Linked DNA regions of Homo sapiens: regions 1, 2 and 3 are each linked to region 4. The links come from fine-mapping of genetic effects on plasma protein levels. A gene starts in region 4. Each other region holds a variant in brackets. All regions are shown on one strand. Distances are from middle to middle.

Region 1 (8,109 bases), 18 kb before region 4:
TGTGTTTATGGCTGTGAAGTCACCATGAGAAGGAGTGGGAAATCTTAGCCCAGGAAACTCCCTCTGAGTTGGGGTGTTAGATGTTCTCTGAAGGAATCAGGCACTGCAGCCCACTAAGATGCCTCAACTCAGGGACAAATCTAGAAGGTGGCAGATTTGTCTCATGGACTCTGCCTCTTTCTTTCCTTCTTTCCTTCCTTCCTTCCTTCCTTCCTTCCTTCCTTCCTTCCTTCCTTTCCTTCCTTCCTTCCTTCTTTCTTTCTTTCTCTCTTTCTCCCTTCCCTCCCTTCCCTCCCCTTCCTTTTCCTTCTCCTTCCTTCCTTCTTTCTTCCTTCTTCCTTCCTTCCTTCCTTCCATCCTTCCTTCTTCCCTTCTTCCTTCCTTCCCTCCTTCCTCTCTCTCTTTTTATTTTCTTTTTTTTTGAGACAGAGTCTCGCTCTGTCGCCCAGGCTGGAGTGCAGTGGCGCGATCTCTGCTCACTGTAAGCTCTGCCTCCCAGGTTCACGCCACTCCCCTGCCTCAGCCTCCCGAGTAGCTGGGACTACAGGCACCCACCACCATGCCTGGCTAATTTTTTTTTGTATTTTTTTTTTTTTAGTAGAGATGGGGTTTCACCATGTTAGCCAGGATGGTCTCGATCTCCTGACCTCGTGATCCGCCCAACTCAGCCTCCCAAAGCGCTGGGATTACAAGTGTGAGCCACCGCACCCAGCTCCTCCTTCCTCTCTTTCTCTCTTTCTTCTCTTTCTTTCCTTCCTTCTTTCTCACCCAGCCTGGAGCACAGTGGTGTGATCTCAGCTCACTGCAACCTCTGCCTCCCGGGCTCAAGTAATTCTCCTGCCTCAGCCTCCCAAGTAGCTGGGACTATAGGTGCATGCCACCACACCTGGCTAATTTTTGTATTTTTAGTAGAGGCTGGTTTCACCATGTTGGCCAGGCTGGTCTCGAACTCCTGACCTCAAGTAATCTGCTCACTTTGGCTTTCCAAAGTGCTGAGATTGCAGGCTTGAGCCATTGCGCCCAGTTGACCCTGCACTTTTCTGACCTCATGTTCCTTCTTTGTCAACTTTGGGACTTAGGCGGCTTCATGATAGTCTAAGCCCCTGCCCTGCTCTCTGTCAGGGATTCTTCTGAGAGGACAGCAGGGAGCAAAACAGGCAGAGTCTTGCTCTCTGGGAGTCTGCATTCTAGATAGGGGAGACAGGCAGCCAACAAATGAACAGAAAATGTGAACAAATACAAAGTGAGTTCATTTGCTTTGCATATGTGCTTTTTAAAATAGGAGTTTGTCTTGGGATGCAACTAGCAGTGATAGAGTTTGCAAGAAACTGCCTTAACTTGAAAGGTAAGTTCGAGGTTTGCTAATGACCATTTATTTAAAAAATTTTCTCTCTTCAAATATTTTTCAGCACTATTGGTGAATTACTGAACTCTTTTCTTAATCTTCAGATGCTGATTCCACAGAGTTTAGGCCAAATGCCCCAGTTCCTCTGGTAAGTGGCTTGTTTATCTTTCTGGGTCCAGTCATTGTCACTTGGGTCCTGGCTCTTGCCTAAATTCATAAGGGGCTATTGGCTGGGCGCCATGGCTCACCCCTGTAATCCCAGCACTTTGGGAGGTCAAGGCGGGCGGATCACTTGAGGTTAGGAGTTCAAGAGTAGCCTGGTCAACATGGTGAAACCCCTGTCTCTACTAAAAATACAAAAATTAGCTGGCTGTGGTGGCAGATGCGTGTAATATCAGCTACTCGGGAGGCTGAGGCAGGAGAATTGCTGGAACCCGGGAGGTGGAGGTTGCAGTGAGCCAAGATCATGCCACCGCACTCCAGCCTCAGTGACAGAGTGAGACTCCTTCTCAAAAAAAAAAAAAGGCGGGGGGGGGTCTATTATTATTTTTTCTTTACAGCACCAGAACATTTTAAATTACATTATTCTTATATTAAATTCCTTTGTTCTTGATAGTCCATCTTCTCAGCTATGCCTTAAAGACAGTCACAATCCTGGACTGATTTCTCTTTGTCGCAGCTTTCAAGCTTAATGTTTAGGAAAGGATTAAATCGGCTGTGACAACAATTTATAACATCTACTATAAATAAATGAGCTGTCCTGTCTCCAGACTCATCACCAGTCTGCCTATTTTCCACACTGGTGGTCATCTGTCTTTCTAAAACAAAAGCGACAGTGATTCTGCTGCCAGTCCTCATCTTCCATCAGTTTCTTTTCCCTTAAAATATTCAGTCCAGGATTCTGGGCTGGGTCCCAAAGCCACTGTGCTCTGTCACCTGCTGCTTTGCTGATTCATCCCATGGCATCCTGATTCCTCCCAGGCTTTGAGTTTTTTTCTTTTTTGTGTTTTTTTGAGGCAAGTTCTCACTCTGTCACACAGGCTGGAATGCAGTGGCATGATCACGGCTCACGGAAGCCTAGACCTCCCGGGGTCAAACAATCTTCCCACCTCATTTTTTGATTTTTTTTGTAGAGACAAGGTCTCACTATGTTGCCCAGGCTACATGCTTTGAGTTTTACGTTTGGACAATCTAAACTAGTTTTTCAGATACAGCCTGAGGTTCCCTATACCTGAGATGTCCACCTGCCTAAAATCCCTCTCCCCCTGGAATCTCAATAAAAGCATTGAAAAATTTAATTAACAACAACTCAGTTACCAACAACTTCCTATTCATCTGAGGAAACCTTTCCTGACCTCTTTTCTTTACCTGCCTCTGCCTTCTGCCTCATGCTACTGTGCTCACCACTAACAGAGCGAGTTCTGCAAGATGATGGTTGGCCTTCAGTCAGCCTGTTTGCCAGCCACCCATGCACACCCAGTCGTGTCCCTGCTGCTGGGCACCTACTTCTAATGGAGCTCGCGCCTCACAATCGCGATTGGTTTTTTAAACAGCTTTATTGAGATACAATTCATATACCACAAAATTTAGCCATTTAAACTGTATAATCCGGCCAGATGCGGTGGCTCACGCCTGTAATCCCAACACTTTGGGAGGCCTAGGCAGGTCAATCACTTGAGGTCAGGAGTTCGAGACTAGACTGGCCAACAAGTTGAAACCCCATCTCTACTAAAAATACAAAAAATTAGCTGGGCGTGCTGGTGCATGCTTGTAATCCCAGCTGCTAGGGAGGCTGACACAGGAAAATTGCTTGAACCCAGGAGGCGTTGGTTGCAGTGAGCTGAGATCGTGCCATTGCACTCCAGCCTGGGCAACAGAGTGAGACTTTGTCTCAAAAAACAAACAAACAAAAAACTGTATAATCCAATGGTTTTTAGCATATTCACGGATCTGTGCCACTCTCATTACAAGCAATTTTGGGCCATTTTCATTACTCCAAAAAGAAACCCCACACGCCTTAGCTGACACCCCCAAGCCTCCTATCTCCACCAGCCCCAGGCAACCATTAGTCTACCTTCTGTCTTCATAGATTTGCCTGTTTGAATCATTTAATATAAATGGAATCATCCAATATGTAGCCTTTTGTGACTGGTTGCTTTTACTTAGGATAATGTTTTCAAAGTCTGTCTATGTTGTAACACGTATCAGTACTTTGTTTCTTTTTATTGCTGATTAATATTTCATTATATGGACATGAAACATTTTATTTATCCATTGATGAACATCTGCATTGTTTCTACTTTTTGGCATTGTGACTAACGCTGCTGTGAACATTCATGTGCAAGTTTTTGTGTGGACATATGTTTTCATTTCACCAGGAGTGGAATTTCTGAGTCATATGGTAATTCTGTGTTTAACCCTTTGAGGAGCTGTAGGACTGTTTTCCAAAGTGGCTGCAACATTTTAATTTCCTGCCAGCAATGTATGAGGGTCCTAATTTGTCCATATCCTTGTGAACATTTGTTATTTCTGTCTTTTTGATGATAGCCATCCTAGTGGATGTGAAGTGGTGTCTCATCGTGGCTTTGATTTGCAGTTGCCTGATGGCTAAGGATGTTGAGCATCTTTTCATGTGTTTATTGGCCACTTGTATGTCTTCTCTGGAGAAAGGTCCATTCACATCCTTTGTCTATTTTAAAATTAGGGTATTTGTATTTTTATTATTGAGTTGTAACAGTTCTTTATATATTCTAGATATAAGTTCCTTATATATAATCTGTGCTATCGGCATTTGGGAACACATCATTCTTTGTTGTATGTGGGAGCTCCTGCCCACTAGGTGCCAGTATCACTCCCTAACCCCTGCCCAACTGTGACACTAAAAGTACCTCCAGATATTGTCAAATATCTCTTGGGGGCAGGGGCAGAATCGCCCTGGTTGAGAACCACTGATTTAGAGAAATCTAGTTCTATTTCTGTCCCCTGTAGCCTGTTTAATCCCTTCCCTTATGGCAAGCATTCATTCTTTTTTTTCTTGGTTCATCTTCCCATTTTTTACATATAAGTAAAGCTGTATGTCTTTGTCATCCACTTCCCTTCTTAGGGAAATGGTAGCATACTCTACACAGTTTTTTCCTGCCTTGCATTTTTCGCTTAACACTGTATGCTGGAGATCACCCCACGGAAGCACATAGAAGCATTCTTCACTCTTTTTTTTTATAGCTTGTAACTCAAACCATAATGAACCATAACTTACCAGCCAGATGGTACTTTTAAGTCTTATGCTCAGAAGGCCTAATACCAATGAAGGGTTCCTTATGAGCCTTTAATATAAACATATTTCCTGACTAATAGCTGAAATGGCTGTGCCAGGAAAACTATGGGTTTTCTTTTCTAAGATATACTTTGGGATAGGAAGTGATTTTACCAGTAGGTGCCACTGTTAGATAGTGTTGGCAAGGTTAATTCTTTGATGATTATTCTTTACTGGGGGTGTGTGTACGTGCGTTAAAAAATTTTTACACATGGCCGGGCGCAGTGGCTCATGCCTATAATCCCAGCACTTTGGGAGGCCAAGGCGGGC[A/G]GATCACAAGGTCAGGAGATCAAGACCATCCTGGCTAACATGGTGAAACTTTGTCTCTACTAAAAACATAAAGAAATTAGCTGGGCGTGGTGGCACGCGCCTGTAGTCCCAGCTACTCGGGAGGCTGAGGCAGGAGAATGGCGTGAACCCAGGAGGCAGAGCTTCCAGTGAGCCGAGATTGCACCACTGTACTCCAGCCTGGGTGACAAAGCAAGACTCTGCCTCAAAAAAAATGAAAAAAAATTTTTTTTTACACAGAGTAAAAAAGTTAAGCCCTGCAGAAAAAGGTACAGAACTGTCTCTCCTTTGCCCCCACCTCACTTCGGTTCCCTTCCCCAGTGGCAACTACTTTGATCCATTTCTTTCTTTCTTTTTTTCCTTTTTAAAGAGATGGGCTGTCTCACTATGTTGCCCAGGCTGGATATTCACAGGTGTGATCATAGCGCACTACAGCCTCGAACTCCTGAGCTCAAGTGATTTTCCCACCTCAACTTCCCAAGTAGCTGAAACTACAGGAGCTCAGCTGATGCATTTCTTTAGTTATTTCAGAGATTTGTGTGTGTGTTTTTGTGTGTGTATACCCACTTAGCCACACACATATGAATATGTATTGCGTTTAAAAAAAAGATCTTGGCTAGGTGCAGTGTCTCATGCCTGTAATCCCTGCACTTTTGGAGGCTGAGGCGGGAGGACTGCTTGAGTCTTGGAGTTTGAGAGCAGCCTGGGCAACATAGTTACACCTTGCCTCTACAATAAATAAATAAAATTACCTGGGCATGGTGGCATGCACCTATAGTCCTAGCTACTCGGGAGGCTGAGGGGGAGGATCACTTGAGCCCCAGGGGTTGAGCTGCAGTGAGCTGTGATCACGCCGCTGCATTCCAGCCTGGGTGACAGAGCGAGACCCTGTCTCAAAACAAAACCAAACAAAACAACTTTGTAGCATGCTCCAGACACTGTTCCCACCTTGCTTTATATACTGATCATTCCACATCAATGTGCAGGGATGTCTTCGGTGTGCTTGCTCTGCTGTATGCTATATGGCTGCATCCTTATTTATTTAACCAGTCTCATATTTAGTTTGTGTCCATTATTTTGCTGCTTTAATTTATGCTGCAAATTAGTATCCATGTACATATATCCTTGCACCCACGCGCGAACACATCTGCAGGGATAGATTCCTAGAAGGGGAGTTGCTAAGTCAGAGGATGTGTGCATTTTACATTTTGATGGCTCCTATACACATAAGTGAGATGAGAACAATAAAAGCTAATTGCTATTGAACGTCTTTATGGCCTGCAATGTTTGTTGGAGAAAAATAGCCTTAAGAGCTAGCACTTGTATCGATGTGAGAAGTCTTATTAAAAAAAAAAAAAAAAAGACTAAGGAGATAGAATCATAAGGCAGCAAGCACCATGAAGCCTGCAGAGTTACTTAAGCTTGAGCAAATAACAGTTACTTTGTGGGGACTGGTCATTCTGGCTGTTCTAGCTAGGAAAGTAAACAGTTTGGAAACCAGGAGCCTTCTATAGGGAATATTTACTCCTAAGATCTCTTCATAGGTCATCATGACCCTCCTTTGGCATGCATGATTAGTGCTATGGCTGTTGATGAAATCAATAGAGACACTGGCATCCAGAACAGTTCCAAGAGAAAGTGTCTGTTATACACATAAAAAGAGAAACAGATTTTTCCCTAAGGGTTAAGGTAGACTCTTTCTGCGTCTCAGAGTGCCCAGGAGAGAATGAGTAAAATTTATTTTATTGTGTCATTTCTCTGCTTAATCCACAAGGTGAAATTGAAGGCTCTGGGACTTTGCAGAATACTTAGGGTTCTATAGCAACTCTGGTTTTTTGCCCTGCTTCAAAGTAGTCTCAGCTGCCTTCTAGATGGTACATAACCAAGAGCGTAGCTGTTGCTGACTTACATTCTAACCCTATATCAATCACATGGCTGCTGCTGACATCCTTGACCTTGAATTTGGCTTCAGATCTCTCCAGTACATCTGTAGTGTAGTTCACAGCACTTTGGACTTTATATTTTGAATATTTTCAGCTTTTGAGGCATATATATATATATATATATGAATGAACAATCTCAATCTAATGTGTAGGCATGTGAATGTGCTTAACTCTAAGCATTTCTTTTCTGTTTGTTGAAAAAGGTAACTAAAAATTCTAAATTTACATAAGATATTACACCCTGAAGACAGAATTCATGTTCCACCTTCAAAAGACATCAGCACACACATGCACACTTGGATGGTGGTATGGGAAAGGAACAGGGAGAAATTCAAAGCATTTTAACGAGATGCAAATGGATATTTGAGATTTTGGTATTTGATATTATTTCAGTTTTCATTATTTATCATAGGTATGACGTCATTTATCCCTTTTTGATCCAGGAATTTTCAGGGTTAAGTGAATTTTACATCTACCATAGTAGATTTGTGAAACAGTCACATAATTAAAAGCTGATTTGGGTGAAAGTTGATTTTTGTTATACATGAAGTATAATTGATTAATGCATAACATTTTCCTGCCTTTAGTTGAAGCCCTGTTTAAAATATTTTCCTCATCTGTATTATTTTTCAACAACTTCATATGGAGTGCAAATTAAGAGGTGTTGAAAACAAACCAGATGGCCCACTTAGAATTATCTTTTAGGCAATTTTGATTACTTTGAGGATTTTCTTGCATTTAGAGTGTTGAAGTAAGCATCTCCTGACTATTACAAAGATCATATAGAAATCACTTGGAGGTTAGTTAGGGCTAAAAATCCTTTTTCCCATAAAAGTAGTCATTAGGAATACAGCTATAGGCCGGGTGTGGTGGCTCACACCTGTAATCCCAGCACTTTGGGAGGCTGAGGCCGGTGGATCGCCTGAGGTCAGGAGTTTGAGACCAGCCTGGCCAACGTAGTGAAACCCCGTCTCTACTAAAAATACAAAAAATTAGCTGAGCGTGGTAGTGGGTGCCTGTAATCCCAGCTACTGGGAGGCTGAGGCAGGAGAATCACTTGAACCTGGGAGGTGGAGGTTGCAGTGAGCCAAGATCGCGCCATTGCACTCCAGCCTGGGCAACAAGAGCGAAACTCTGTCTCAAAAAAAAAAAAAAATGCAGCTATAATATGGGTTAAATAGCTTTTTACAGACCACTCTGGGAGCCTAATACTCCTTTGA
Region 2 (8,109 bases), 170 kb after region 4:
ATACTGGGGTGGTCAGATATATCTATTTGTCCAACATCATTTCAGAATTTCTGGAACCATCAAATGAATAAAACTTCTTTACATAATATAAATAGTATATATTTTTTCTAATTATAAAATATTATGTGATTATTGAAAAAAGATAATAAAAGGTATAGCAAACTTCAAAGAAGCAGGATCATCCTCTACCCCACCATAATCAATCCAGTTGTCTGCACCATTTTGGGTGTTTTCTTCCTGTTTTTTAAAATGCATTTTTTAGAACATAGTTGAGATCATACAACATATAATGGATAAGATCTATATTCAATCTAAAGCTATTTTAATTTATCCACCTAAGAGCAACCATATATTATGAAAACTATGATCTGAAACAAAGAAATGGAATGTTTGACATAATCAGGCTAAATAAATAAATAAATAAATAAAAGCAGGCCAGTAACTCCTTGTTTTCTCTAACCATTAACTCATCCCTTTCCTTCCTCATTCTGTTTATTAAGTCTGGAATATCCCTGGCTCCTCTCTTCCCTCCAAAGTCTCCTCCTTGAATGTGCCTATCATATTGATTTTTCACTTCTCTATTGTCCACTAAATTTGAGAATTCATTTACATGTAGTCTTGCTTCTAATTTTTTGTTTAATGATTTATATGTCTTACCTCATCTTACTTTTTGAGGTCAGGGGACATTTATTATAGTTTTTATACCCATCCTAATAAGTAGCAAACAGCCAGGAACATAGTAGGAGCTGAAGAAATATCTAGGGTTGACACCAAAAGTGTTTTAACAAATAGTTGCATGGGGAGATGTAATAGTTGAATTATCCAGACCTGTGCAGACAAAAACTATAGCTGCAGTGTTCAAAATGGTAGCCACTAACCACATGACTGTTGAGCATGTGAATTGTGGCTAGCATAAATTGAGATGTGCTGTAAACATAAAGTACATTAGGCATTTCAAAGGCATAGTATACAAAAAAAGAATGTAAACTATCTCAGTATTTTTTATGTTGACTACTTGTTGAAATGATAATATTTTGAACATAATTGAATTACATAAAATGTATTATTAAAATGAATTTCACCTCTTTCTATCCTTTTCAGTGTGCTACTAGAAAATGTAAAATTACATCTGTGGCTTGCATTGTACATATATTTTGTTGGATGTTGCTGTCTTGTATGGCAATGAAATGTAATGTTCGAGATTATTCTTTCTACAGGGCAGAAATTCATTATATTTCTAGATACAGTGTATTTGCATTTCAATGGATAATAATTATTTGCTTTACTAACAGTTTTCTATAGCTTAACTTCTACCCTTACAGAGTTACAAAATAGCCTAAATAATAGGAAGACAATCAGTCAAAGGTACATACCTGGATAGAGCCAGACAATCCTGGGATGGTCATTTGGATAATATGCAAGCACTTCACTGAAAGGACACTCAGTAATCTTTTGCCCATTGCCAAGTCTTTGGCAATTTTTCCTAAAAGCATCTTTCCATATTCTTTTGTTACTGTCCCATGTGATTATGTAGGATCACGTTTTCTTTTCTAGTTAATATCGACAAACTATACTTGCAAAATTCATACTTCAGCCAGAAAACAATGTTTTAGGAACTATGACGTTCCTAATAATAAGGTTAAAAATGTTGGGAGTAAAATTAAAAAGAAAAAAAAATCATATAGAATAGAACCAAACTTGAATAAAGAATCATATAGAATAGAACCAAACACTTGAAATGATTGAAAAGATAGTGAAATTAATTGCATTTTGTCATTACTCCTTAGCTTATCATACTCTTGTCGAATGGGTGGAAACCATATTCTTTTCTACTATTTAATTAGCTGGAAACAAAGCCTGGCTATTGGTTGACTGGATCTAGTATAAATCCCCCCTCCCCCATTTTTGATTAATCAAATTGCCACTCCTTATTTATTTATTTAAATTAACAAATAATTGTGTATATGTTTATGGTGTATGGCATGAGGTTTGGAATTATGTCTACATTGTGTGGAATGGCTAAATTGAGCTAATTAACATATGCATTACCTTAAATATTTATTTGTGGTAAGAACACAAAATCTTAGCAATTTTCAAGTATATAATATATTGTTATTAACTACAGTCTCCATGTTGCACAATAGACCTCTTAACTTATTCCTTCTGTTTAACAAACTTTGTACTCTTTGACCAACATCTGCCCCGCCCACAGCCCCTGGTAACCACCATTCTATTCTCTGCTTCCATGAGTTCAACTTTATTAGATTCCACACATAAGTAAGATCATACGGTATTTGTCTTTGCTCTTTCTTTTAAAGGAAATAAATTCTTCTCCTTTTTAAGTCAAAGGACTTTTTTTGTGACTTTTGGGTCTGTTCACTCTGCTATGGAGATTAACAAATATTAATTAGTGGATGACTGCTAGGAAGTGAAACTCACAACCAATGAAGTGGTTAATTAAAGTTGAACTTTTTGATTGTCATTTCTAATATTTTTTATATTTTATATATATATATATATATATATATATACAAGTTTCTTTAAATTATTGATTTAAACACCTTAGTCCAAAAGAAGATTAAAAAATGGCTGAAAAGGGATTACAGAGATGACTTTTGTTTCAAATATTTTTAAAACATCCAAAATTTAAAGTAGATAACTATCCCTCAAAGTTAGCTGCTCCAAGCTTGATTTGACATTTGACGTTCCTGATGCTCTGGCTCAGATCAGAGCAGTTCCAAGAGGCTTGGTGGTGGCGATGGGGGTTCGGTGAGAAGTGGGGCAGGCAGGTCTAGATCCGGCCCCGCCCTTACCCCAGGACACCCCCTTTTCTGTGTGCTTTGGACTTCAGCGTCAGTTCTTCCGGCCCAGGGAGGCTATGGAATTGAGGGCAAGTGTTTGCATTATTGATGAGGGTACAAAGGACTCCAGAAGTTTTGAGGCTTTGCTTTTCCCCTTAGCCCTACAGGGTCAGGCTTTCATGCAGAAATTGGCCTGGAAATTCTCCACCGTTTTCATAGCTGCAATGTTTTTGAGGTGTTTTTTAGATAACAAAAAACTAAATACAATTCTCAAAGCTTATTTTGTTTACTTTTAGAGTACACAAAGCAATTTTGCAACAATTACAATTATATATATTCTACTTGCTACTAAGACTGTATAACATTGGTGGGGATAAGAGATTATATGTTTTTTCCTAAAAATATCTACTTAATGCACTCTTTTAATTTTTATTTTTATTTCAATAGTTTTGGGGGTACAGGTGGTTTTGGTTACATGGATACATTCTTTAGTGGTGATTTCTGAGACTTTTGCTCTCCCCATCACCCAAGCAGTGTACACGGTACCCAATATGTAGTCTTTTATCTCTCACCCCCTCCTAACTTCCCCCTCCACAGTCCCCAAAGTCCATTATATCATTCTTATGCCTTTGCATCCTCATAGCTTAGCACCCACTTATAAGTGAGAACATACGATATTTGGTTTTCCATTTCTGAGTTATTCCACTTAG[G/A]ATAATGGCCTCCACTCCATCCAAGTTGCTGCAAAAGACATTATTTTATTCCTTTTTATGGCTGAGTAGTATTCCATGGTGTATATATACCACATTTTCTTTATCCACTTGTTGGTTGATGGGCACTTAGGTTGGTTCCATATCTGCAATTGCGAATTGAATGCATTCCTTTTAATAGTTAGTTTTGCTGTCAATCTCTTTTCCTGTTTAATTATTTGAACTATTGGACCCTGAGGATCTGCCCCTGAACATCTCCTGAGAAGTGCTCCAGCAGAGCGAAATCTTGAAAGTCATTCATGAAAACGTTGTTAAGAAGTGGCTTGAGCCCTTCTCTGAGCTGGCAGAAGTGAAGGAGAATTACAAGAAATTCTATGAGGCATTCTCTAAAAATCTAAACCTTGGGATCCATGAGGACTCCACCAACCAGGGACGTCTGTCTGAGCTGCTGTGCTATCACACCTCCCAGTCTGAAGATGAGATGACATCTCTGTCAGAGTATCTCTCTCACATGAAGGAGGCACAGAAGTCCATCTATTACATCACTGGTGAGAGCAAAGAGCAGGTAGACACCTCTCAAAGCGGGGCTTCGAGGTGTTATATTAGACCAAGCTCACTGATGAGTACTGCGTGCAGCTGGTCAAGGAGTTTGATAAGAAAAGCCTGGTCTCTATTACCTCAGGTCGAGCTACCTGAGGATGAGAGGAGAAGAAGAAAATGGAGGAGAGCAAGGCAAAGTTTGAGAACCTCTGCAAGCTTATGAAAGAAATCTTAGATAAGAAGGTTGAGAAGGTGACAGCCTCCAATAGGCTTGTGTCTTCACCCTGCTGCATTGTGATCAGCACCCTATGGCTGGACAGCCAATATGGAGTGAATCAAGAAAGCTCAGACACTTGGAGACAACTCTCTAATGGGCTACATGGTGGCCAAAAAGCGCGTGGAGATCAACCCGACCACCCCATTGTGGAGATGCTGCAGCAGAAGGCTGAGACAGACAAGAACAGCAAAGCTGTCAAGGACCTGGTGGTGCTGCTGTTTGAAACTGCTCTGTTTTCTTCTGGCTTCTCCCTTGAGGATCCCCAGACCCTCCACCTGCATCTACCACATGATCAAGCTAGGTATAGGTATTGATGAAGATGAAGTGACAACAGAGGAACCCAGTGCTGTTGTTTCTGATGAGATACCCCTGCTTGAGGGTGAGGAGAATGGGTCTTACATGGAAGAAGTAGACTAGGAGTTTATATTTGGAAACCTTGTGCCCTTGTATAGTGTCCCCATGGTTCCTTGAGTGGCTCTGTCCCGCGGCCTTGAGTGGCCTTATCCCACCTGGCTCCCTCTGCTGATGTCTAGTGTTTTTTCTGTCCTGTCCGTGTGTCTAAGGCAGGAAACAAGAGCCTTAAGCCCCATTCTCTTTCTACTTTTATAACAGGATATTGGATGTTGTGTATTGTGCTTTTTTGTTTATTTTGTTCTGAAATGAAAGTATACCAAATAAAGCAGATGCCGTTTTTATGTGGGAAAAAAAAAAACACTTGCCTGTTCTGTGTTTTGATTTTCTTGATAGTAACATTTGCAGCACAAGCATTTTTAATTTTGGTGAAGTCCAATTTATCTATTTTTTCTTTTGTCACTTGTGCTTTTGGTTGTGCTTCGACCTTGTCAGATCTAAGGAGCCATTGTCTAATCAAGTAATTAGCTTTCAGTGTCTCCTGAGAATAAGGGCCATAGAAGAGGCTGAGTAAAGACTTGCAACAATGATATGTAATTGCATGTGCATTTTTAAAAATAGACTATTTTTAGAGCAATTTTCATTTTACAGCAAAATTAAGCAGAAAGCATAGAATTTCATATGTCCCCTTCCCCTGTACCACATCTGGCCTCCTCCATTACCAACATCCCACACCACAGTGGTTCATTTGTTACAATTGATGAACCTACGTTGACATGTCGTTATCATCCAAAGTGCAGTTTGCATCAGGGTTCACTCTTAGTGGTGCACATTCTATGGGTTTGGACAAATGTATAATGATATGGATCCACCATTACAGTATCATACAGAATACTTTCACATTCCTATACATCCTCTGTGCTTTGCCTATTCATCCCTCCCTCTTCCCAACCCCTGGAGAAAACTGACCTTTTTACCATCTCCATAGTTTCACCTTTTCCAAAATGTCATATAGTTAGAACCATACAGTATGTAGACTTTTCAGATTGGCTTCTTTCACTTAGTAATATGTATTTAAGGTTCTTTCCTGTCTTTTCATAGCTTGATAGCTCATTTCTTTTTAGCATTGAAAGATATTTCATTGTCTGGATGTACCACCATTTATCCAGGTACTGAAGGACATCTTGGTTGCTTCCAAATTTTGGCAATTATGAAGAAGGCTGCTATAAACATCTGTATGTAGGTTTTTGTGAAGACATAAATTTTCTACTTGTTTGGGTAAATACCAAAGAGCATGATTGCTGGATTGTATGGTAAGAGTATGTTTAGTTTTGCAAGAAACTGCTGAACTGTCTTCCAAGGTGGCTGTACCATATTGTAGTCCCACTAGTAATGAATGAGAGCTCTTGTTGCTCCACATTCTTGCCAGCATTTGGTGTTATCAGTGTTTTGGATTTTCACCATTCTAATAGGTATGTAGTGCTATTTCATTGTTGTTTTAATTTGCATTTTCTTGATGACAGATGATATGGAGCATGTTTTCATATGTTTATTTGCCATCTTCATATCTTCTTTGGTGAGATGTCTGTTCAGATCTTTTGCCCATTTTTTAAACTGGATTGTTCATTTTCCATATTGCGGGGTTTTAAGAGTTCTTTGTGTATTTTGGATTATAGTTCTTTATCAGATCTGTCTTTTGCAAACATTTTCTCCTAGTTTGTGGCTTGTCCTCTCATTCTCTTGAAGTGATTGTATTTCCTTGAATTATTCACTTCACATTCACTTACTGAGCATCTTCTATGGTCTAGGTTCTCCGCAAGGCTCTGGGTATATAAAAGTGATTAAGACATAACCTTGCTTTTAGACACTTTTAGTGTGATGAAGGAGAAGGATGAGTAAATAGGTGATTAGAACACTCTTCTAAGTAAGCAGTCTCAGGCTTCTTGGAAGAGGAGTGTAAGACATAAAGAAAAAGGATATTGACAACAAGCACAGGTGGGCAGAGCCTTCTGGGTGAAGGGAACACTACATCACAATGACATAAGTAAGTTCTTGTCAATATGATCATTAGCTATTATTGCTATGGTAATAGTGTGTCTAGGCTAGAAGTAGGCAAACTATGGCTGTGGGCCAAATCTGGCTGGCCATCTGCTCTTGTAAATAAAGTTTCATTGGAATACATTCATGTCCATTTATACACATATTTTCTGTAGCCACTTTTGTGCTACAAGTAGTTGCAAAAGAGACAGTCTTGCTTGCAAAGCCTCAACTATTACTCCCAGGCCCTTTACAGGTGGGGCTCAGACTGGAGGGGCAAAGATAGACTGCTGCTTTAGTGAGATGCTTTAGTGATTTTTCCGCGGCAAAACCACATGGCAAAAGTCATGGACAGGTGGAGAATTGATTCCAATCACATGTCTGAGGGCATGGCAAGCTACACATATTTTTCAGGAGCAGCAGAAGTTTCATTCATGGCTGGTCAAAATTAATATCTGTTAAATGACAGCGACTTTCTCCCCATTTCCTGTGTCTAAGAGGAACTACACTGTAAAAAACTCCTGGCAGGCAGCTCTGACATTTTTCTTTTTTCAGCAAGGTAAACAGATGTAGATCACTTTCTTTCTGATTGTCCCAGAATAATTTGAGATGAGAAAAGAAGACATGACCTGGGGCACTTAAAGACAGGTTGCTTTTCACTAACAAAGCTGGAAGACTTTTTGAGCTCTTCTAAATTATAAGTTTATTATAGCTGGAAAGACTTTCTTTTCAGATAAAGATAAAGAGGGCATCTCAATTTCTTTGTGAGATATGATTAGCTTCCTGGAAATCCTGTCTATATAGCTCACTCGTGATGCTTACTTTTTAGGTGTTATCTACTTACATGGTATTTTTCATTTCTCCCTTAACATCAGTGTGCTGGGAAAAAAGTACACCCACACGCATAATTTACGTATATAATTGTATAAGTGCATATATATATATATCTCCATTTGTCCTGAGACTGGGCCAGGTTGTGAGGCTGTGAAGTATGAGGTTGGTAGAAACTACCTTTGAGGGGTCTTTCAGTTTTCCTTTGATCTGTCTTTTAACCAGCCCCCGATCCTGCTTTCTGCTCCCTAACTAATTTCTTCTCCCATAACTCCCCACCCCTTCCTGGGCACGGGGGTCTTTTGGGCTTGTCACCTCTCTGGAAAGTGCACTGTGTGATAAGCACATTTGTACTGACATGTTAGTAAGTTTATGGCTTTTCAAGTGGGACATGAGAAGTGGGCACGACTCAACCAAAGGAAAAAAATACTCTGATAATTGAACTGTAGACAACAGCACAGAAGAGGTATTATGTTTATATTGGGGATTTTCCTAGCACCTCTCCCTTTATATTATATCACATAAATGATTACCCCCTTCATCAAACAGAACCTGCCCTTGGGCT
Region 3 (8,109 bases), 230 kb after region 4:
TCCCCAGAGGCACAATGGAATGGATGGGATTTATGTCATTTCAACCTCTCACATGAAGCATTCTCTAATTTTTGTTTGGGATGAAAGAGCTGGTTGCTGACTGGAGTTGGATGGGCTACATAAGTATCCTAGATCCTTAATTATGAAATAACATTGTAATTATTTTCCGACTTTAGAATCATCTCTCTCTTTCACTTTCTACTTGCAGCCTGCCACTAAGCATTTCCTTCCTCTGCAATATTTCTTGGCTCTCCTGCTTCCTTTTCATTTTCACCCCAATCCCATAATAACCAATGGCCATCTTAGATCCACAGTGCATCATCTGCCTTCTTTCTGGTTTCTCTGTTTCTTGTCTTTATTCCAGTGCATTCTACACATAGCAGCATGAATCCTTTCTACAACTATTATTGGATTAGGCCACTCCCATTCTAAGAAGCCCAGAATAACTCTCAATTTCCTCTTGAATAAAATTAAACCTCCTAATCACATACTCTAAGCTCCTTAGCCTGTAACCTCCTCTACTTGATGCCCCCCTTGCCTGCCTCAATTGGACATCCTACTGCAGCTACATAAGCCCGTCTACACTTCCTGTCCGTTGTGTGTATTTACACCCACCAGTTAACTCGACAAAGAGCCTTTGGGCATCTCATCTCTCCTGTTCAGAATGTCTCCCCTCTTCATTTTACCTGGGAAACAATTGGTTTGGTTTAATTATGTTTAACTCAGTGTTTCCCAAATTTATTTCACCATGGAACACTTTTGCTCACAAGATAGCTGTTAAAACTGTACTGGATAGCTCTTGTCTTCTCCTTCTCCACCCACAACCCTCCTCTATTCTGCTATGTGCCTTGTGAGGGAGGCAGACATGGATGGTCTGCATCAACAGATCCCCTTTGATCTCCATCGTGGTTACTTTTATGTGTCAACTTGCCTAGGCTCTATTGCCCAGTTATTCAATCAAACACTAATCCAGATACTACTGTGAAGGTGTTTTGTAGATGTGTCTAATCAGTACACTTTAAGTAAAGCAAATTACCCTCCATAATTTGGGTGGGCCGTATCCTAATTGTTTGAAGGCCTTAAGAGCAAAAACCGAGGTTTCCTGTAGAAATTCTAGCTCAAGAAGGCAACATTAGCTTCTGCCTGAGTTTCCAGCCTGTCCTACGCATTTTGGACTTGCCAGGTCCCCTTATCCCCCCACTCATCCCCCAAACAAATGAGCCAATTCCTTAAAACCTTTCTTTCTCCCCACCTTCCCCTGTCTTTCTCTTTCTAAATATTGGTTCTGTTTCTCTGGAGAACTGTGACTGACACACTCTTTAACTTCCGGTTAGTTTGGCCAGTGGGTGCTGATCTTATGATTAGAAGGAGGAAGGACTTAGGATATTTATCCTCTGGGTCACCTACAATTCACTGCATCTGTGGACAGAAGTCACAGTTCCTCTCTGGAGCCTTCTTTCTGTGACTCTTTCCTTCTTGCTTCTGGGTTCAGTAAACCACCCCATCCTCTTTTCCCTTTAGGTCTGGGGATGGTAAGAACTTTCAGCTGTTACTAGACCTGGGATACTGACCTATTTCTTGTGGTTTCCCTACGCTGTTGCGGGAAGTCAGGAATCCCAAACGGAGGGACCGGCTGAAGCCATGGCAGAAGAACATAAATTGTGATGTCAGGGGAAATTCAGCCAGGTATTGGGCGAAATTCACCCCCAATATTTCACGTAGGTTCTTTTCTATATTCCCTAAGTGTCGGCTGGTCTGAGAAACAAAGGGACAGAGTACAAAAGAGAGAAATTTTAAAGCTGGGTGTCCAGGGGAGACGTCACGTGTCGGCAGGTTCTGTGATGCCCCCCAAGCCGTAAAACCAGCAAGTTTTTATTAGTGATTTTCAAAAGGGGAGGGAGTGTATGAATAGGGTGTGGGTCACAGAGATCACGTGCTTCACAAGGTAATAGAATATCACAAGGCAAATGGAGGCAGGGCGAGATCACAGGACCACGGGACTGGAGCGAAATTAAAATTGCTAATGAAGTTTCGGGCATGCATTGTCATTGATAACATCTTATCAGGAGACAGGATTTGAGAGCAGACAACCGGTCTGACCAAAATTTATTAGGCGGGAATTTCCTCGTCCTAATAAGCCTGGGAGCGTTACGGGAGACTGGGGCTTATTTCATCCCTATAGCTTCAACCATAAAAGACGGCTGCCCCCCCGAAGCGGCCATTTTAGAGGCCTACCCTCAGGAACGCATTCTCTTTCTCAGGGATGTTCCTTGCTGAGAAAAAGAATTCAGTGATATTTCTCCCATTTGCCTTTGAAAGAAGAGAAATATGGCTCTGTTCCGCCTAGCTCACCGGCAGTCAGAGTTTAAGGTTATCTCTCTTGTTTCCTGAACATTGCTGTTATCCTGTTCTTTTTTCAAGGTGCCCAGATTTCATATTATTCAAACACACATGCTCTACAAACAATTTGTGCAGTTAACACAATCATCACAGGGTCTTGAGGTGACATACATCCTCCTCAGCTTACGAAGATGATGGGATTAGGAGATTAAAGTAAAGACAGGCATAGGAAATTACAAGGGTATTGATTGGGGAAGTGATAAGTGTCCATGAAATCTTCACAATTTATGTTCAGAGATTGTAGTAAAGACAGGCATAAGAAGTTATAAAAGTATTAATTTGGGGAACTAATAAATGTCCATGAAATCTTCACAATTTATGTTCTTCTGCCATGGCTTCAGCCGGTCCCTCCGTTTGGGGTTCCTGAATTTCCACAACACTATACTCTGCCACATCTTTGTGAACAGCCCATTATTCATCTTTCCTCAAATTGCCCAATTTAAGTGTACTGTTTCCTGACATGACTTTCACTGATATAATGGCTCATGGAATTAGTGTTCCAAGGAAACTGTGCTTCAACTTCAACCTTTCTTTTATTAGGATGGCAAAATTGTAGGGCTCATTGTTTCCCAAAACAGCCTGGGGAAGTCAGGACAAGCTTCACAGAAAAACTGATTCCGGGTTAGGAGTTGAATCATGGGTAGGTTAGTTCCACTGGAGAGAAGGTGGGCATGGCAACAGAGAGTGACAACTAACATTTGTATATTTGGCAGTTATAAACTTGGTCTGCGTATCTTATCTCATTTGATCCTCTCAACAATCCTGTGATGTGAACAATTATTCTTGTGTCACAGATAATAAAAAAATGAGCAAACAAGCAGGGTGTGTGTTCAGGGATGCAGGAGATATTGTTCTAATTAGAGAGTTCTTGATGAAAAGTAGGGAAGAATAAAGGTTTTAGTTTAGGCAGGGCCAAATGATGTGTGATCCAGAGGGTGGAGATGAGGAGTTTGATTTGATGCAAGAGGCTGCAGAGAGCTTTTGAAGGATTATTTCAAAAATTTTTAAATTGACTATATAAATAACACACATTCATGGTAGAATATTTGGGAAAGTAAAGTATAAAGAAGAAAATAAACATCATCTGTAATTTTATCACTGATATGATTTGGATCTGTGTCCCTGCCCAAATCTTATGTTGAATTGTAATCCCCAGTGTTGGAGGTGGGGCCTAGTATGAGGTGATTGGATCAAAGGGGTGGGTTTCTCATGAATGGCTTAGCACCATCCCCCTTGGTGCTGTTCTCGTGATAGTGAGTTCTTCCAAGATCTGGTTGTTTAAAAGTGTGTAGCACCTCCCCCCTTGCTCTCTCTCTTGCTCCAGCTCCTGTCATGTAAGACGCCTGCTCCCACTTTGTCTTCTGCCATTATTGGAAGCTTCCTGAGGCCTCCCCAGAAGCAGAAGCTGCTATGCTTCCTGTAAAGTCTGCAGAACCATGAGCCAATTAAACCTCTTTTCTTTATAAATTACCCAGTCTCAGGTATTTCTTTACAGCAATGCAAGAATGGACTAACACAATCACCAAGTGATATCCTTGTTTTTCCCCCTCTTAAAATTTGAGATCAATCAGCATTCATAACATTGTGCCCTGTTTTAGTCATCTGACTCAGAAGTTTCTCAACCATGGTGATACTGACATTTGCAGCTGGATCATTCTTTGCCGTGGGGGCTGTTCCTGTGCACTATAGAATTTTTAGCAGTATCCCTGACCTTTACCCACTAGCTGCTGGTAGCACTCCTCTCCCTCCAGCTCTGACAACCAAAAATATCTCCAGACATTTTTATTTATTTATTTATTTTTTTGAGGTGGAGTTTCGCTCTTGTTGCCCAGGCTGGAGTGCAATGGCATGATCTCAGCTCACTGCAACCTCCACCTTCTGGGTTCAAGGGATTCTCCTGCCTCAGCCTCCCAAGTAGCTGAGATTACAGGTGCCTGCCACCACGCCCGGCTAATTTTTTGTATTTTTACTAGAGATGGAGTTTCACCCTGTTGGCCACGCTGGTCTCGAGCTCCTGACCTCAGGTGATCCACCCGTCTTGGCCTACCAAAGTGCTGGGATTACAGGCATGAGCCACCA[C/T]GCCTGGCCCAGACATTTTTGCCAAATGCTCCTTGATGGGGAAAATAATCTCTGGTTGAGAATCTTTGATTTAACTTTATATTGTGAGCACTTTCTCCATATCATTGAGTAGTCATTTAAAAAATCCATGTGATAGACATACCATACTTTATTTACTTATGGCTTTTTCCCCTCAAATATTTAGTTTGTTTCTTTTCTTTTTTTTTACATCATGAACAACACAGTGATGAGTATCCTTGCCTATACATCTTTGGTAGAATTTCTAATTATCTCTTAAGCACCAATTCCTAGAAGTACATTTTCTTTCTTTCTTTCTTTTTGTTTTTTTTGAGACGGAGTCTCGTTCTGTCGCCCAGGCTGGAGTGCAGTGGCACGATCTCGGCTCACTGCAACCTCCGCCTCCTGGGTTCAAGCAATTCTCTGTCTCAACCTCCCGAGTATCTGGGATTACGGGCACCCGCCACCATGCCTGGCTAATTTTTTTTTGTATTTTTAGTAGAGATGGGGTTTCACCATCTTGGCCAGGCTGGTCTTGAACTCCTGACCTCGTGATCCACCCACCTCAGTCTCTCAAAGTGCTGGGATTACAGGCATGAACCACCGCGCCCGGCCTAGAAGTACATTTCTGAGTCAAAAGACATGAATGTTTCAAGGCTCCTGGAATATTGTTCTGAAAAAGTGCCTCTATGTTATCAACCCTCATAAGCCCTGAGGATTATCCTTAGGAAAACTCCTGGTATGTATATAAGTTTTAAAAAACGGACATCCTAAAATTTTAATTTGCACTTTTTGATCTTTAGTAAAGTTTTTCCATATGTTGCTGGAAAGTCTGGATTTCTTTTTGTTTATTTCCTTTTGCCTAACTTGTAGATTGTTGGATGTTTTAATCATTATGAAAGCAGTGTTTAGAAAGATACCATCTGACCTGTGTTTTGGGGGATTAAACTGATTTGCATTTCTGTTTTTCAGGTCTCTTGTTTTTCCAGTTTTCAGCTCTGATGTCAGAAATTTATTCAACTTTGTAAGGAAAATCTAACTCCAGGCCAGGTGCAGTGGCTCACGCCTGTAATCCCAGTACTTTGGGAGGCTGAGGCGGGCAGATCATTTGAGGCCAGGAGTTGGAGACCAGCCTGGTCAACATGGTGAAACCCCATCTCTACTAAAAATACAAAAATTAGGGAGGTGTGGTGGTGCGCACCTGTAATCCCAACTACTCAGGAGGCTGAGGCACGAGAATCACTTGAACCCAGGAGGCGGAGGTTGCAGTGAGCCAAGATTGCACCACTGCACTCCAGCCTGGGCAACAGAGCAAGACACTTTCTCAAAAAAGAAAAAGAAAAGAAAATCTAACTCTGTCCTCAAAAGAAGCATGGAAGGAAAGAAAGCAAAGAAAGACTTGCAAATAGACTTTTCAAACTTCTAGTTAACAACTTCAAAGTCCCACTTTCTGTAGCCAAGTCTGCTAGTATTTTCTGCTTAGTATTATAAATGGATTGTTATTCACTGCTGTGCTCTCCTGGGGATGTAAAATTAGACCTGGAATCCAGTCCCAGCTCTTCCTCCAACTACTTCTCTAATCTCAGGCAATTGCTTCATCTCTCTGAACCTAACTCTCCTCATTTATAAAATAATGTGGTCAGTGAAGATTATCTCTCAAGGCCTTTAGAATTCTAGAAATTTGTGTTCATGTAGTGGGAAGAAAATAACTGGATGGCAACAACCTGGGACCCTGGAGTCTTGTTTTGAGCAGGGGGAAGAAAAGCCATGCAATGTTAAAATACTATAATGAAACAAAATAATGGCAAAATGCAACACTTGTCAATTCTAATCGTTAATGAGCTTTATGTCTCTTACCTTTTACTATTCTGCAGCACTTTTGTCTACTAACAACAGGAATTTTCCTGAAGTGCCAAATATTTACAAAGGCAGTGGTAGAGTGGGGGGGTTTACTTAGGGGTTGCTGTTGAGACAGGAAAAGTTGCAAAATTGGTTTTTGCAGGTGATATAGTCTATCTCATTGTATATATTTGTCTGTTTACTGTCTTCTCCACTGGAATGGAAATTCCATGAGGAAAGAGACTTTTTGTGTATCTTGTCCATCACGGGATCCTCAGTACCTAGACAGTGCCCAGCACATGGTATGTGCTCAGTAAGTACATGAAGAACAAATACATAAATAAATGGATGAACTGGAATGTCTCTGTAGCACATACAAGTATAACTTATGAAAACAACTTACTCAAAGAGTCGCAAGAGCTCTCCGATTTTAATTTTGTGACTATGGAGCTTGAACCCTAATCAAGTTCCTCAAAATGTGCCCTCTGCAAATAAGTCCAGCAAATATAGCTTTTTTTTTTTTTTTTTTTTTTTTTTGTGAGACAGAGTCTCACTCTGTCACTCAGGCTGGGAGTGCAGTGGTGTGATCTTGGCTCACTGCAACCTCTGCCTCCCTCAAGCGATTCTTATGTCTCAGCCTCCCAAGTAGCTGGGATTATAGGCATGTGCCACCATGCCCAGCTAATTTTCGTATGTTTCACCATGTTGGTCAGGCTGGTTTCAACCTCAAATGGTCTACCCGCCTCAGCCTCCCAAAGTGCTGGAATTACAGGCATGAGCCACCACGCTGGCCAAATATAGCTATTTTAAAGTTAACTAAATGGATGAAATTAATTATATTTGAGAACGATTGACTGAACAAATGAATGGAGAAATAAAAAAAAGCAATGAAGGAGCAAGTGGTCTAACAGATAGATTAAAATAAACTTGGCTAAAAATTAATTTTACAGGAGAATTTGGATATGAGTTTCCTTTGCCATCATTTAAAGCTTTTATGAAGATAATTTTGGAAATATGTTCATCAATATTATTATCATTTATTAGAACAGAGATTTATGAAAACAGATGCTGTTAATTTTTTTCTACCACCTAGAAGGCAGATTAATACATGTTCACAAATACAATAACAAGAAGGGTGATGAAACTACAGATATAGGGGAAGGAAGCCACTTCAGGACTGCAAAACAATGAGGACCTTTGAGCTCCATTTGCTGCCTCACCTGTAAAATGAGAATGGAAACTCTGTAAAAATGGTGAGGGAATAGCTATGATTGCTGTTTGCAAGGTATAAATAGATTTTGGGAAATTATCATTGCAGCAGCAAGCAGTTTCAAAATTATGTTAGAGAACTCCATTTTGCTGTGAAGTTGTAGACATGCAATGCCAAAGAACACCAGCTTTTGACTCCATGTGATTTATGTGTAAAATTCACTCTAGAAGTTCAGCAAGGCTGACATGTGGGTCCACAAGTTTGCCAATTGTCTTCAAATGTGCAGTCAAGATGTATGAGCCAGCCAAATAAATCCTCAAAAGTAGTAAGAGAAAAGATAATCTATTTGAATCACACTTTCTTTTCAGAGACAAACTTCTTCAGTCTCTCAACATAATATTAGCAAGCTATGTTACTACTTCTTAAGATGAAATTATTGTTTTCTCTGGTAATTAAGTATTTAATTCCAATGACTACAGTGACTATGTCTGGCTGGTTTGTGGTAGAGACTATTGGGCTGTCAACCATACTTGTTTCCTGGACACACAACTGAACTACATTTCCCAGCCTCCCTTGCAGTTATG
Region 4 (8,108 bases):
AGCTCATGCCTGTAATCCCAGCACTTTGGGAGGCCAAGGAGGGTGGATCACTTGAAGTCAGGAGTTCGAGACCATGGAAGCCTGGCCAACATGGTGAGACCCTGTCTCTATACAAAAATTAGCCAGGCGTGGTGGTGCGTGCCTATAGTCCCATCTACTTGGAAGACCGAGGCAGGAGAATCGCTTGAACCCGGGAGGCGGAGGTTGCAGTGAGTGCGATGCCACTGCACTCCAGCCTGGGTGACAGAGCGAGCCTCCGCTGCAAAAAAAAAAAAAAAAAAAAAAAGACATCTTAGATAGTATGTTAAATGTCTGTTCTTAGAGTACATCTGTTAGGAGATGGTCCCTGGAGCCAAACATTTTTATTAGTAATTAATGACATTCTACACTTTTTATGTACCTGATCTGCACTCTGCAGGCTGTGGTCTTGAAGAATACTTGACCACAGCTTCTAGCTTCTAAGTTACAGGGAATATCTCCAGATGGCATAAACTCACCTTCTCTCCAGACCATTATCTTTCACACCATTCTAAAAGGAAGCAGAGTATTAATGCAAACAGAAGGAGCTCTAGGTAGTACCAAAATCACACTAACCTGGTTGCCCAATAGTGAAACAGCTAGAAGAATCAAAGAGGAGTTTGAAGAGCTGAGCAGAATCATGACACTTTTATAGTCTTTACGGGCACGCCACCCTGATTATGAAAATTTCCTTTTGTTGGCCATTTAAGGGTAATTATTAATGGTTTTTGAAACTCAGGCTTAAGACTGCATGAACCCCATAATTAAGGGCAAGATCCAGTAAAGGTCCATCTCGACAGTTGCTTCATGGTTCAGAGTCGTAAGCTTGGATTTTTTTCCCCCTGAGATTATATTTTCCCTCCAATGTAGAATTATATTTGCTCACAGTTCACATTTCATAAAGCTTAGATATAGAGGATTCTTTTCAATTTAGTTGCATATTTAGGCTTTAAAAAATAACTTTCTTCATATCCAGAAAAAATAAATGCTGCCCTGTGCGGTAGCTCATGCCTGTAATCCCAGCACTTTGGGAGGCCGAGGCAGGAGGATTGCTTGAGGTGAGGAGTTTGATACCAGCCTGGTCAACACAGCAAGACATTTCTACTGAAAAATTTAAAAAATCAGCCAGGTGTGATGGTACATGCCTGTAGTCCCAGCTACTGTAGAGGCTGAGGTGGGAGGATTCCTTAAGCCTGGGAGGTTGAGGCAACAGTGAGCCATGATTGTGCCACTGCACTCCAGCCTGGGTGACAGAGTGAGATCCTGTCTGTAAAAAAGAAAAAATGCTGTCATAGAAGGACAATATTACATAGTTTAAAAAATTACGGTATGGCCATTGAAGTCCTTCTGATGTCTTTACATATTAGCAGCTTAAATATTTGAATACATGAATGAATGAATGGAAGTATTGCTTCAGAAGCAGGTTTAAGAAGTGGAAAGAAGATACTCAGTAATTTGTGGTTTTATTTGGCAAATCAATATTGAGTAACATGGTCATTTTTTCAGCTCTTTCATTATTTGTTGGTCCTGTGTCTGCTTTTTATTTCTCATTATCCTTTTCCTTACCAAATATATTTCGTGATCATTCGAAAAACTTGTGAGAACACTCGACTTACTCTTGTTCAGTTGGAAATACTTCAAACTTTTTGTAACTGCCATGATTTAAAATTGCCAAGGAGATTGATTTCTACTGGAAAGAGTTCCATGAAATAAGTAGGACATTTCCAAGGGACATTGATCTAATGCTGATTGTAACTCACAGGAAGGGGTTCCAGGTGGATTTTAAGAGCACTTTACAGCTTTGAAACACTTGTACACTTCCACACTTATAGAATTTTCCCTGACTCTGCCTTATATCACCTACAAACTGAGGACTGGACTATTGGGACTGTATTTCTCCCTGATGTTTCTCAGCTCTAAAATTCTAGGGCCTTATTTACATTGGAGAACAAATGGGAAATCTAATAGAATTCCTTAAAAGCTTCCCGCCAGTCTTGAGCATTTATCATTCCATGTGTCTTTGCTGTCTTGTATATATTCTTCTTGTTTTTATTATGGATTCTTTGACTTTGCTATGCACCAATATAGAATATGTATTAACTCACTGGTTGGAGTAAAGACAGGCATTTTATTTTTAGTTATAAGATTTTACACAAAAATATTCTGATTTTGGCAATGCATTTTAATCAAGATTTTAGAAAATTGCCAGTGTTTTTACACATATGTTCTGTTTTCCTGGGAGGAAGTAGGCGTTTGTGCTTAATCATAACAAGAACTATCTTTTTTTAAACATCTTTTAAAAAATATTTCAGATCTACAGAAAAGTGGCAAGAATAGTGCAATGAACACCAGTCTGCCTTTCGACTAGATTCACTAATTGCGAACATCTCCACATTTGCTTTCTCTTTCTCTGGACAGATACTTTCCTCCACCCCTGAGTCATTTGAGAATCAATTACAAACATCCAGATGCTTCCCCCCTGAGCACCTCAGCATCTGTCTCCTAAGGACAAAGACATTCTCCTATGTAACCACAATGCCATTATCATAGCCCACGTCAAATCTCTCCAATTGTTGAATAGCATCTTAAATCATCTTTTCTCTCAAATTACCACTAGTGAGCTAAAATCAAATGGGGTGTTTATTATGTTTTGCATCTGGTTTTTTTGTTTATTTTTTTGAAGCCACTTCACTGTGTCACTCAGGTTGGAGTGCAGTGGCGTGAACACAGCTCACTGCAGCCTCAACCTCCATGGGCTCAGGTGATCCTCCTACCTCAGCCTCCCGAGTAGCTGGGACTACAGGCATGTGCCACCATGCCCGGATACATATATATATATTTTGTGTATTTCTTGTAGAAAAATACAACATGGGTTTTGCCATGTTGCCCAGGATGGTCTCCAACTCCTGGGCTCAAATGATCTGCCCGCCTCAGTCTCCCAAACTGCTGGGATTACAGGCGTGAGCCACTGCACCTGGCCTATTTTTTGCATCTGAAGAAATGATTTTAATAACTATATGTCATCTTAGTAACGATATAGGATGAAAGATAACATGTTCTATATAATACACCCATATATTACATATGACGTGTGTATGTATATATAAAAATTATCTCTAAGAAAAACTTTTGGAGCAGTATTGGTTAATAGTCTTCTAGGCTACAAATCTCTTCTTTCAAGGGACAACTTCTGATTAGAATCAGCCCAATGCGGCCGGGCACGGTGGTTCACGCCTATAATCCCAGCACTTTGGGAGGCCGAGGTGGGCGGATCACCTGAGGTCAGGAGTTCGAGACCAGCCTGACCAACATGGAGAAACCTCATCTCTACTAAAAATACAAAAATTAGCCAGGCGTGGTGGTGCATGTTTGTAATTCCAGCTACTCGGGAAACTGAGGCAGGAGAATTGCTTGAACCCGGGAGGTGGAAGTTGCGTTGAGCTGAGATCCTGCCATTACACTCCAGCCTGGGCAATAAGAGCGAAACTTTGTCTCAAAAAAAAAAAAAAAAAAAAAAAAAAAAAGAATGGGCCCAATGCTGCCTATTGTCAGAATTTATACTTGTAGCGAATGCTAGCAAAACTTGAACTTGAAAAACAGCCTGTGCGGCTTCTTAAGTTTTTACTTGCTCACTTCTACCAGTCACATCTCTTGTCTCTTATTTTTCTCTTTACCCATAGACTTAAAAGCATGAGGGTAAACTTGCACTTGGAAGCATGAAAAATCCACTAATAGATACTCTTGTGAAACATTAACTAAAAATATATGGAGACAAGTGATAATTACAGGGTGTGTTCACAAGAGTGCGTTTTGAAACCAGAGAAGGGGGGAAACGACAGGCACAAGGGTGGTAATGGGAAAATGGAGAGGCAAAGGTTATTTATCACCTCACTGTTCAATTGTTTGATCTTTGGACAGGCTTAATTTTTCCTAGGAAAGCCAAGAGTAACATATTTTAAGAGCTCTGGGCACCACAGGCTTCTGTGGGTTATTCTGCTTGAAGGTGACAGCATGCAATGTCTTGAAAAGCACCTTCAGGAAGAGGGTACAGTGTTAGTACCTGGTCCCTGCAAAACAAAATGGGTGTGAAATGCTATCCATGGGTTCTTGTTATCTTTGATCCTGAAGTTTAAAAGAGACCTTGAATACTCAAATGCTGCTTTCCCAGAAAGTATAGCTTGCTTGTCACCTGACCTGGTGTCTACCTTCCCTGGACCTTCAGACAAAGTTCACTTCCAACCTTTGCCTGGGCTGTGAGGCTCACTGTCTTTTGGGTCAGCCTGTGCTCACCTTCAGCAGTTGAGTTCCCAGAGGTCTCCTGACCATAGCCTGTGCTTCTTGAGTGCGTATCTTTACTATGGGCAGTGTGCTGACCTAGGCACCCAACTCCCACGGCCTCCTTAAATCCTTGCTGCAACTTTATGAAGTGGATGCTGTTGGTCCCCCCAGTCTGTAGAGACATCCAAGGACCTGCTCAGGGTCACACTGCTGGTCAGCAGTAGAGCTGGGATTCAAGTTCAGGCCCAGCCTGCACCCTCAACCACCGTGCCACATGCCCCTCCCAGGAGAAGGGCTTCTCTGAGGACAACCATTGTATGTTAACATTAGGACCACAGGTAGTATCACACTTAAGTGTTAGGTTTACATCTGGAGGTATAAGAAGGTTCTTTTTCTGAGGTGTAAGAAAGTTCTTTTCCTGATGAAAATGATATAGGCCTTTGTCTGTTTTGCACTGCTATAACAGAGTACCTGAGACTGGCTAATTTATAAAGAAGAGAAATTTATTTCCTCACAGTTCTGGAGGGTGGCTGGGAAGTCCCAGATCAAGGTGCTGGCATCTGGTGAGGGCCTTCTTGCTGTGTCATCATGTGGTAGAAGGCATCACATGGGTGAGAGAGAGGGAAGGGGACTGAACTCATCCTTTTACCAGGAACCCATTCCCATGATAACTAACCCATTCCAATGATAATGGCATTAATCCATTCATGGGGGCAGAGCCCTTATAACTTAATTGCTTCTTAAAGATTCCACCTCTCAACACTGTTGCACTGAGGATTAAGCTTGCAACACATCAACTTTGGGGAATGCATTCAAACCATAGCAGCTTTCTTTTACTGGTGGGGAAAAAAACAAGTTTAAAAGACTGGAAAAATACATACGTACTTATGGGACTGCTCATTGATTTCCTCATTGTAGATTCCATTCTCACACTACTTGGTGACACAGCAGCGCAGGTTGGAAGCCAGAAATGGGAAATAAACTGCTTCAGGTTAGAGGCAGGACTCTGTCAGGCAGGACTGGGCATAGTGTGTACTCGGCCTCTGAGTAGGGCACCACCCCTCCCTTCCCGTCTGCTGAAGAGACTCACCTGCAACTTGGGACATCCATGAGTATCTCAGACACCCCTCTGCTACTCTGTGGCCCACTGACCCATCCCTTAGTCTCCCCTGTTAGTTTTTAATACACTTAAAACACTGTGAGATTCCAGGCCGGGTACAGTGGCTCATGCCTGTAATCCTAGCACTTTGGGAGGCTGAGGCGTGTGGTTCACAGGGTCAGGAGATCGAGACCATCCTGGCTAACACGGTGAAACCCCGTCTCTACTAAAAATACAAAAAAAAAAAAAAAAGTTAGCCGGGCATGGTGGCGGGCGCCTGTAGTCCCAGCTACTCAGGAGGCTGAGGCAGGAGAATGGCGTGAACCCGGGAGGCGGAGCTTGCAGTGAGCCGAGATCGTGCCACTGCACTCCAGCCTGGGCGACAGAGCAAGACTCCGTCTCAAAAAAACAAAAAACAAAAAACACTGAGAGATTCCATTATTGAGTACTTGATCTGAACTTGACACTGTGTCGAACTCCTCAGTGGAGATGGAAAATAAAAAGATCTAATCCTTGTGCTTGATGAGCCTACACTTAATTTATGAGAGGAGATGCATTTATGAAATAATAGAGGAAGTTAAAGCTGTTTGTAGTAAATAACGGTATTAGATTCCTATGGCTGTTGTAACAAATTACCACAAACACAGTGGCTTAAAACACATATACATTTCTTCTGGAAGTCAGAGATATAAAGTGGGTTGGCAGGGCAGTGTTCCTTCTGGAGGGTGTACGAGAGAATCCATTTCCTTGCTTTTTCCAGCTTCTAGAGGCCACTTGCCCACGGCCATCCTCCATCTTCAAAGCCAGCAGCATAGCATCTTCCAGTCTCTCTGATCTCTGCTTTGTGGTCATATCCCCTTTTCTGACCCTGACCCTCCTGCCTTCCTGTTTTAAGAGCCTTTGTGGTTACAATGGGCCCACCCTGATAATCCAGAATCTTCCCTTCTCAAGAGCCTCAATTTACAGGCTGGGCATGGTGGCTAATTCCTGTAATCCCAGAACTTTGGGAGGCCAAGGCTGGAGGATCATTTGAAGCCAGGAGTTCCAGACCAGCCTGGGCAACATGGCGAAACCCCATCTCTACAAAAAAATACCAAAAAATTAGCCGGGCATGGTGGCATGCACCTGTGGCCCCAGCTACTTGGAAGGCTGAGGTGGGAGGATCACTTGAAGCCAGGAGTCAGAGGCTGTAATGAGCTATGATCATGCCACTGCACCCCAGCCTTGGAGACAGAGTGAGATCCTGTCTCAAAAAAAAAAAAAGATCCTCAACTTAATCACATCTGCAAAGTCCCTTTTGCCACAGATTCATAGGTTTCAGGGACTAGGATGCGGATATCTTTAGGGTAGGGGAGGCATTATTCAGTCTCCTACTATGAGTTACTGAAAATGAATTGATGATGTATAGGTTATTTATTTGGTAGGCTGAGCATAACAATGGCATTAATTATGAGGCAGTAAGGGGAACTGGAGGGGGCCCCTAAAGCATGAGGAATGGGAGGGAGAAGGTATCTTGGGAAAAGTAGAGAAGGAGGTGGTCTGTGTGTAGTATGGTGGTGGGTAGGAGAGTGGAGGTGCCATTGACAATGGCCCCAGCTAGCTGTGGTAGAAGCTACAGGTTCGAATACATGAGGAGGGCATGGCTAGTCTGGGCTCCTGTGTGAGGTAGGACCTGAGAGCCACCCAGAAGAGTTTAGGTTTAGTCTGTAGTGATGGAGGCTGCTGGAGCTAGCAGTGCAACCCAACATTAGGGAAAGTAATGCTGATGTAAAACTGCTTGATACTTTATGTACAATTTGAATATGACTTAGAATCAAAATCAGAATCAGGCTTGAAAACCTAATGAGCAGTAGGAAAGGAATGAATTGGAGAATACTTGTAAAGAATACTAGAGGAGGCCGGGCGTGGTGGCTCATGCCTATAATCCCAGCACTTTGGGAGGCTGAGGTGGGCGGATTGCTTCAGCCCAGGAATTCAAGACCAGCCTGGGCAACATGATGAAACCCCGATGCTACAAAGTGGAAAAAAAAAATGCTAGAGGAAATTGCTGTATGTTGCCTAAGAGTCTGGAAATAGAAATAGCTGCTGGTGAGTAGGCTTTCCCTTTGTCTCCAGGTGAAATATTCAACGATGAGGAACAAAAGGAAAGCTGGGCTTACCAGGGTAGGTCAGGTAGGTCCAGTCAGGAATTTCACTGTTGCTAAGAGAACCTAACTCCTGTAGACTTTGTTGTTTAAGGCACCTGGGATGCTGTAAAGTCTTGAACTCATTACACTTTTATTATGGGCTGCAGAAAACATCAGTAAAGGTTAATTAGTGCCATATTTATCCTTACATGCTGATTTTACATCTCCTAAAGCTTTATCACTTATTGATCCTTTTTTATTTTTCTCATACTATATGGCTCAGTTCCAAGAGAGGACAAATCTGGGGATCAGATGACAGCCAGTATTTAGGCTGAATTAGAGGAAGCAAAGGCAATCCTTTTGCAATGGAAGATGCGTTTTCCTTTCAGATGCAAAAATCTAGAGTATTTTGGAAATGTTGGTGTTAAATCTAAAGCATATTTGAGATTATTTTCTTTAACCACCCCAGTAACAATAAAATAGATATGTTTTGAAACTGTGATGTTCTCCTGTCTCTCAGGCTTTTAGTGGAAGGAATGCAAGGAACAAAGACATTTTTGTTAATTTTTGCTGCTGAATCAGGTTGC

Alleles and levels. Positions count from the first base shown, and alleles are read on the strand shown. Strength reflects both the effect of a copy and how common the allele is.
In carriers of allele G in region 1, the plasma level of the protein whose gene starts at base 640 in region 4 tends to be lower than with A alone (weak association).
With allele A in place of G in region 2, the plasma level of the protein whose gene starts at base 640 in region 4 is lower (moderate association).
With allele C in place of T in region 3, the plasma level of the protein whose gene starts at base 640 in region 4 is lower (weak association).

Evidence for each region. PIP is the posterior inclusion probability: the model's chance that the variant is causal. The UK Biobank Pharma Proteomics Project read protein levels with antibody pairs (Olink). The fine-mapping took linkage between variants from a reference panel, not from the people measured, so its PIPs are less certain.
Region 1: its variant is fine-mapped to the plasma level of the S100G protein (UK Biobank, PIP 0.95).
Region 2: its variant is fine-mapped to the plasma level of the S100G protein (UK Biobank, PIP above 0.99).
Region 3: its variant is fine-mapped to the plasma level of the S100G protein (UK Biobank, PIP above 0.99).

Annotation. Positions count from the first base shown.
Region 1 is chrX:16,660,898-16,669,006 of GRCh38, reverse strand. CTPS2 (CTP synthase 2) reads left to right here. Exons shown (of 19, transcript NM_175859.3): 12 at 1,283-1,345; 13 at 1,450-1,493. Among named protein-coding and RNA genes, the nearest start is that of S100G, 15 kb to the right of the region's middle. The variant A/G (reference allele first, on the strand shown) is at 4,929.
Region 2 is chrX:16,470,975-16,479,083 of GRCh38, reverse strand. It overlaps the pseudogene LOC100132857. Among named protein-coding and RNA genes, the nearest start is that of MIR548AM, 150 kb to the left of the region's middle. The variant G/A (reference allele first, on the strand shown) is at 3,512.
Region 3 is chrX:16,416,760-16,424,868 of GRCh38, reverse strand. No RefSeq gene overlaps it. Among named protein-coding and RNA genes, the nearest start is that of MIR548AM, 210 kb to the left of the region's middle. The variant C/T (reference allele first, on the strand shown) is at 4,480.
Region 4 is chrX:16,642,690-16,650,797 of GRCh38, reverse strand. It overlaps S100G (S100 calcium binding protein G), which reads right to left and starts at 640. Exons shown (of 3, transcript NM_004057.3): 1 at 595-640. The region is part of intron 13 of CTPS2 (CTP synthase 2); the gene reads left to right.